Linked DNA regions of Homo sapiens. The protein of the gene in region 1 interacts with the protein of each later gene in a pairwise test. Each region holds a gene or a part of one and is shown on either strand. Other genes may lie near its edges.

What was found.
Region 2: the proteins of SPTLC1 (region 1) and GTF2IRD1 interact in a two-hybrid assay, tested with the Homo sapiens proteins (one large-scale study listed by BioGRID).

Annotation. Positions count from the first base shown.
Region 1 is NC_000009.12:92,042,321-92,046,136, reverse strand, and holds part of SPTLC1 (serine palmitoyltransferase 1), read left to right. Parts: intron 1-83; coding exon 84-138; intron 139-3,816. UniProt on the Homo sapiens protein: Component of the serine palmitoyltransferase multisubunit enzyme (SPT) that catalyzes the initial and rate-limiting step in sphingolipid biosynthesis by condensing L-serine and activated acyl-CoA (most commonly palmitoyl-CoA) to form long-chain bases.
Region 2 is NC_000007.14:74,512,689-74,516,504, reverse strand, and holds part of GTF2IRD1 (general transcription factor II-I repeat domain-containing protein 1), read right to left. Parts: intron 3,676-3,816; coding exon 3,534-3,675; intron 1,161-3,533; coding exon of another isoform or gene 1,065-1,160; coding exon 909-1,064; intron 1-908. UniProt on the Homo sapiens protein: May be a transcription regulator involved in cell-cycle progression and skeletal muscle differentiation. May repress GTF2I transcriptional functions, by preventing its nuclear residency, or by inhibiting its transcriptional activation.

The DNA.
Region 1 (3,816 bases):
TTGATCTGGGTCTTCAAAAATATTTTTAGGTTAGTACTATCATAAGTTTCAAATAGACTCTCAAACGTATTTTTTTCATCTAGGTATTTTTGCAGTGTTGAAGGAAAAGTGCGGACAAATTCATAAAGCTTTACAAGGGTGAGTTTTATATATTTTCAACCAACATAAAGTTTATCTGCACCACACTTAACAACTAATGGAAAGTTTTAAATTTCTAGGCTTGGGTCAGTTTGACCAGATTGCAGCTAAGAAACCAAAAACTTAGTTCACTCACATTGGTTTATTTGTGTAAAACCAGATCATCTGTTTTAAAGAATCGTGACTTTGTTTTTCTGAAAATGAAACAAACTCATTAATAAAATATTACAGCAGTACAGAAGATAGAAAGATGAAAATAACAACCCAACATCTTACCACCAGAAATAACCAGGGTAAACACTGAAGCATCTCTCCATGTCTGCACACACAGGGATGCCATTATATATTATGTAATTAGATGACTGGGTTCATACCATCTGTGTTACTTTTTAATAAATTACTAAGTTTTAACACAAGAAAAAGAAACAAGTGAAATTTTATCAGTGTTTTTTTTTTTTTTTTTTTTTTTTTTTTACTACACAAGAGTCACTTTTTTTTTTTTTATTATACTTTAAGTTTTAGGGTACATATGCACATTGTGAGGTTAGTTACATATGTATACATGTGCCATGCTGGTGTGCTGCACCCACTAACTTGTCATCTAGAAGAGTCACTCTTTAAGATTCCTCTGTAGTTAAAAAAAAAAAAAAATGGAGGTTGGTGATATCTCCAGGCACATTTCTGGTCTTATATAAAGTGATTTCACATTGCCCGAGGTCTTTCTTTTTGCCTTTCCTAAGGTTAAACATGCTTTCTTGGTCATGAAAGTCCTATCTGTGTTCCGGATATGGAAACTGGAGACTTAACTGAAAGAAAAGGACAATTGATAAATGAGTACATCACAGCTGTTCCAGATAAAGAAGGGGCAGAGACATTAAAGTTCTGGGTGTGTCTGTGTGATAGTAACAGCAGTTCTTGCATGATTTATGGTAGAGAGATATATTTGTATTGGTTCCAGTTCCATTGGTTTGTGAAATATTAATATGCCAACACAGCCTAGCATATTGGAGTCACTGGAAATGCATCAGTGCTAGCCTTACATGCCTTTCACTCTATGGTGTTAACCTGCCTTTTTCTAAGTCTAATCTCCACTTACCCCAGCTGTATCACACTTTTTCTTTCCAAAATTCCTAATCCTCTGTCTTCACTCCCCTCACTTTTAGCTAACAGCCTGGCCTTATGCTGTCACTTGGGACTCTGTCATATTTCCTGACAAATCTACACACCTGTGGGTATCTGAACCAGTCTTCCCTCCTGTAGACCAGTAAATGTTGCTCCAACTACCACAGGCCCTTTTTTTAAGGACTGAGTGCCTTTGCTTGTCCCTGCTACTTTGTCATCAGCCTGTCCCCTTTCTTGTGTTATTTGATTAGCAGTCATGTCCACTTTAAATTCCTCTTGCCTGTCACCTGACGTTTCCCTCTGCAACTCCCCATGTCTTTGCTCCTCTCAGTAGCTATCATCTCCACGTCTTCACTTACACTGGCAGCTCTGAGACCTGGCTTCTGCTACTGCCCTTCGCCTGGACTGTTTTTGTGGAGGTCTCCACTGACTGCTGAATCCAGTGGACCATCTTCAGAGCTCATCTTCTTGATGTCCCCATAGTTTTCAGCACAGGTGACCACTCTTTCCTTCTTTGGACTCTGCTACACTGCACGCCTGGATTTCCTTTTACATCTTTGAATGGCTCCATCTCGGTCTCCTCTGAAGGCTTTCTTTCAACACCTTGCTCTTCAAGGCTTTGTCTGTGCTTCTCTTTTCTTCTCATTACCTTCTTGAAGAATTGCCTTCTCCCACACCTGGAGCTCCACATCGTTTCATGACACCTGTATAGAGACAGCTCCCAGCTTCGTATCACCACCCTGGACCACTGCAGCTGCAGGTCTCACACCCAGTTGCCTACTCAGTATCCACAGTTGGAAGACTCCATGGCACCTCACAGTAAACACACATTCATAAGGGTCGCAGGGGCAAACCGTGCTGGTATCTAGATGGTTACAGAGAACAGTAAACAAAATAGCAAAGAGGCCAATGTGACAGGAGGAAAGGAGTGGGAAATCTGGTGGAAGATGAGGGCTGGGTCATGGGCCATCCGCACACAGGGACTTGTGAGCCGTGATGAGGACATTGGCACACAGAGGAAGCCCTGGCATGGTTTTGAGCAAAAAAGTGAAACAGCCTATCTGATACCCTAGCAAAATTACTTTTGCATGGTGTGAAAAAATACATTGAACAGCAGTAAGAACAGAAGCAGGGAGACCAGTTAGGAGATTGACGCAGGTGAAAGGTGATAGTGACTCTGACCATGTTGGGAGCCATGACCTGCGAAGTGTCTGGATTCTGGGTATCTTCTGAAGGGAGAGCACACTGGATCTAGCAGAAGTTCATATGCAGGGTGAGTGAGAAAGAGAAGACTCCAGGTAGAGCTCAGGGGGTTTGGTCAGAGTAAATAGGTAGAGTTGCTAATGAGTGAGAGGGACAGAACTGTGGAGAAATACCTTCTGGGGAAGGTCAGCAGTGGTTATGTTAAGCCCAAAGTGCCCATCAGACATGGAGTGCAGAGCAGCAGCTGGATATACAAGTCTGAAGTGTGAGGGAGAGTACTGAGCTAGAGATAAATGTTTGAGTCTTGGGGTATGGATATTATATGAAGCATTTCAGTGTGAAGAGGTCAGAAACTAGCAAAGACTAGTCTGAGAAAGAGTGGCCAGTGAGGAAGAGGCAGGCTGGAAGAGCCTAGAGTCCTGGAAACCAGGGAAGAAATTGCTTATGTAGGAGGTCAGCCTGTGACATGCCGCTGCTGACAGGCCAGACCAGATAACAGAACACTGATCCTTTGACTTCGTTATGTAGAGGTATTATGACTTGGTGAGTAGTTTCAGGGGAGTGTGGGGTAAAATGCCTGCTTGAAGGAGGTTCCAGACAGGTGGACACGGCCTAGATGACTGTTTTGAGGAGTTTTTCTCTGAAGAGGGACTAAGAAACAAGATGGTGGCTGGAGAAAGAAATTGGTCAAGAGAAGAATATTTCAGTTTAAGATTACTGAGATCAATTTCTGAATAACATCTGGCTAAGTATAAAACATCCTTTCTCCTACTGGTTGACAGTACTGTATCATATACCAGGTTCCCATTTGTACCTAGATCTGTTTTTAAACTGTCTCTTCCATTCCATTGGTATATTTGCTCATTCCTCAGACTCTTTTGATTTTGTCTGTTTTTATCACTGTTTTGGAATACAGGTTTATCACTAGTGTCTGTTTTTATCACTGTTTTGGAATATGGGTTTCTCCAAAATTATTGCTAGAATCTTAATTGGAACTGCATTAAATTTTCTGATGAATGTGGAGGGAAATGTCATCCATGAACATGAGCTCTCTATTTAAATCTCCCTTTGTGTCCTTTAATGGAATTCCTATAAAGCCCTTGTACCTTTATGGAACCTTTAAAGGGAATTTTCAGACATCCTATAGATTTTGTTGCTGTTATGAATGGGGTTGTCTTTTCTGTTATATTTTCTACTTGATTATTGCTGATTCATAAGAATATTATTATTTTCTCTAAACTGACCTTATATCCAGGAGTCTTTCTAAACTCTTAGTATTTCCAGTAATTGTTTCATTGTGTTATGATGATGTGCATGGAAGTCCTGTTATCTGCAATAATGGTGTTCTCTCTT
Region 2 (3,816 bases), on another chromosome or scaffold:
GAAGACCACCACTGGGGCCCTGAGGCCCTCTGCAACCTGACGCTTCCCAAGGGAGGCCAGGTCTCCTCTTCCTGCAGGAAAGACATGGCTGAGCAATCAGCCTTCACTTAGTCATTCAACAAACATTCTCCAAGCACCTGCTGTTGCTGGGCTCTGAACTGTAGGCTGGAGACAGCTAGAAAGGGCAGACACAGCCCCTGACTCTGGAGAGCTCTTGGGCTGGAGAGGGGACAGGGCACTGTGGGTGCCAAGAGAGGGGCCTAAACCCACTGTGAGGGGGCTTCCAGGAGCAGAGCCTCAGTGCCACGCAGGTGTCTGCCAGACACAGGAGGGGAAAGGCAGTCTCAAAAGATGTAACAGCGCGAAGTCCAGGGCATGTGAAATGCACCAGCGAGTGCTGGAGAACTGGAAGTGGTTCTGTAGAGAGGTCAGTAGGGCCCTGTCACCTAGTGGGAGAAGAAGGTGTGGAGGGGATGAGGATGGGTGTGTGGGCCCCTGTGCCATGCTCAGGGTGATGGGGAGCCCCCGAAGGCTGTGGAGAGAAGAGCTTCATTAATGATCAGACTTGTGCTTTGAGAAGATACCCTTGGTTGCAGGGCAGGTGTAGAGAGCTGGTCTGGAAGCAGGGAGACCGTGGCAAGCCTGGGGCTATTTCTAGGCGAGAGGTGGCAGTGACTTGAGCCAGGGCAGGGACAGTAGGGGTGGAGGTTTGGAAAACGGCTGGAGCAGAACTTCTGTGTCTGGGAATGCAGAGATGAGGAAGGGCTGGGGTAGCCAGTAGCCCCATGCCTTGGGGTCCGGCTTTGCCCAGGGCCCATAGTGGGACAGGAGGGGGCCCCCTCTGCTGGGTGGGGACCGAGGCTCCCACCCTCCCTGGGGCCCCCAAATGGAATGAGGAAGGATCTTACTATAAAGAACATCAAACACCTCCTCTACCATCTTCCGCAGAAGGTACACATCTGAGCCATGTTCCAGGGAGGACCGAGGGAGGCTACGGCCTCCACCCTCGCCCCGCTGCACCTTCTTGGGGTGCTCTGCCTCCGGATCCTTCCACGGGGGCCCTCCTGTGGGACACAGAGCACGCGAGGCCACAGTGAGCACCCGTCTCACCACCCGGCCTTCGAGCTGGGATGTCGCTGCCCTGTGCTGAGCTGCGGAGACTGGCACACAATGTGATACACAAGTGAATGAATGAATGAAGAATTAATGAGTGAGCAAGCCCTATTCCAACCACCCCACTGAGGGCCAGGGCTGGTCATCTCAGAGTTCCCAGGGCTGGGCCTCACCTCTGGTCACCTCTAATTTGCTGTGTGACCTTGGGTTAGTCCCTTCTCTCTCTGAGCCTCAGTCTGTGAATGTTCACGGGAGGCCAGCTATTCCAGCTCAGAACTGAGGTTCGATGAATGTTCCATCTGTGTCTTTCTATTTTTTTTTTTTTTTTTTTTTTTGAGACAGAGTCTCGCTCTGTTGCCCAGGCTGGAGTGCAGTGGCACAAGCTTGGCTCACTACAACCTCCACCTCCAGGGTTCAAGTGATTCTCCTGCCTCAGCCTCCCGAGTAGCTGGGATTATAGGCGCCTGCCACCTTACCCAGCTAATTTTTGTATTTTTAGTAGAGATGGGGTCTCACCATGTTGGCCAGGCTGGTCTCGAACTCCTGACCAAAGTGCTGGGATTACAGGTGTGAGCTACCATGCCCGGCCCCATCCATGCCTTTCTGTGCTCTGACACGAACACTGTCTTGACCAATCTATGCCACCGTTTTCTGCTCTGCCGGAGGGAGAGAAAACCCTCCGGCAGAGGGTTGGGAGGCACCCCCCAACCCCTGCTCCAAGGAGGCCGTGGGTTGCAAACAGCAGGTTCATGCCAGGCTGGGCCAGGGTGGGGACCGGAGAGTGTTGGTGGATCCTTGGGGAATGTTCTAGAAGCTGCATTGGAAAGGAGATGAGAGGAGGGGCCTGCGGCCCCCTCCCAGCTTGGAGCCTATTCTCCTCTGGGATCTGCGGAGCTTGAAATAAACCAGCCGAGTTCCTGGTGCTATAAATAGCGGCTCTGCGTGGCTCTAGAAGGCAGGTGCACCGCCTCAGGCTCTGGGCGGCTGGGGTGCCACACGACCTGCTGCTGTCCATTCTACCCGGCCCAGTCCCCCATCCTGGCCCTGGAGAAGGTCTAGGCTCTGAGGGCTGAGGGGGGTGGGGGGCTGGCTGGGGATGCGGCTGCACCCCAGTAATGCTAGGCCCAGCGCTGGGGGATGCCCTTCCCTGAAACAGCTGATCTTAGGGGTGTGAGGTGAATACTAATAATAGTAACAACAGCTGGTGTCTATTGAGTGTGAACCAAGTGCCAGACACTGCCCTAAGTGCTTGCAAGGTACCAATTCGTTTAACCCTCAGACCCACCCGTCCTCCCCTTTCACAGATGAGTGGGTTGAGGCACAGCAGTTGTGGACCCAGGCGGCCCGTTCTCTTAACCTCATGCTATACCATGGTTCTTTTGAGATGGGGACTCACTGTCACCCAGGCTGGAGTGCAGGGGTGCCATCGTAGCTCACTGTAGTCTTGAACTCCCAGGCTCAAGTGATCCTCCTGCCTCAGCCTCTCAAGCAGCTGGGACTACAGGTGTACACCATCAAGCCTGGTTAATTTTTAAATTTTTTGTAGAGACAGAGGCCTTGCTATGTTGCCCAGCCTGGTCTCCAACTCCTGGGCTCAAGTGATCCTCCCATTTCAGCCTCCCGAAGTGCTAGGACTACAGACATGAGCCACTGCACCTGGCCTAAGATGTTAACCCTGACTATAGCCATGACAGTGCCTGCCCCCTCAGGTTGATGTCAGGGTAGGTGAGTTAGCATCAGAAAAGATGCTATGTACAGCAGGCATTCAATAAATCTTATTGGAACATGGCCAGGCATGGCGGCTCACATCTGTAATCCCAGCACTTTGGGAGGCTGAGGTGGGCGGGTCACCTGAGGTCAGGAGTTCGAGACCAGCCTGGCCAACAAGGTGAAACCCCGTCTCTACTAAAAATACAAAATTAGTTGGGCGTGGTGGTAGGTGCCTGTAATCCCAGCTGCTCGGGAAGCTGAGGCAGGAGAATCACTTGAACCTGGGAGGCAGAGGTTGCAGTGAGCCAAAATTGTGCCACTGCACTCCAGCCTGGGTGACAGGGCAAGACTCTGTCTCATTTAAAGAAAAAAAAAATTGTGTTGGCATAAGTGCATTTGGTCCTTGTGTTCAGGAATACATAGTTAAGAGGAAGAACTGAGCAGCAGCCTTGGCCTTGGTGTCCCCATCTGGAAAAGGCAGATGGAAGTGGCTGGCTCTGGCCTACCCTGGGGTTCACCCAGCCAGTCTCTATCAACTCAGGGGCTGCCTCAATAACACCACATCGGGAATCTCAGACAACCTAGCTTGTTAGGTTCACTCCCCACACACCGCCACCCTGGCTAGACAGGGTTGGGGACCCAGAGATGGGCTAGAGCGCCTGCCCTCGGGAAATGGCGGGCCCGGCCCTCCGGAGCCCTGGGGTACTCACGGCAGAACCTGAGGAAGTCTGACTGTAGCTCCTTCCGGGCATTCAGGAACATTCTCCCCTTCTCTGTGCCCACCACAAAGGCGCTCTCATCGTGCACGGCGACACAGGCCACCTCGGCGTTCAGTTTGGACAGCGCTGAGCACTGTGGGAAGGGCAGGCTGTGTGAGCGGAAGGGCTCCCCATACTCCGAACACCTCTAGTATCCACTTCGGGGGTGGGATGTGAGCTCCCAGCTGCCTGAGACCCCAGCAGCAGCTCCAGGGACAGACGGCCCCTCTACTGT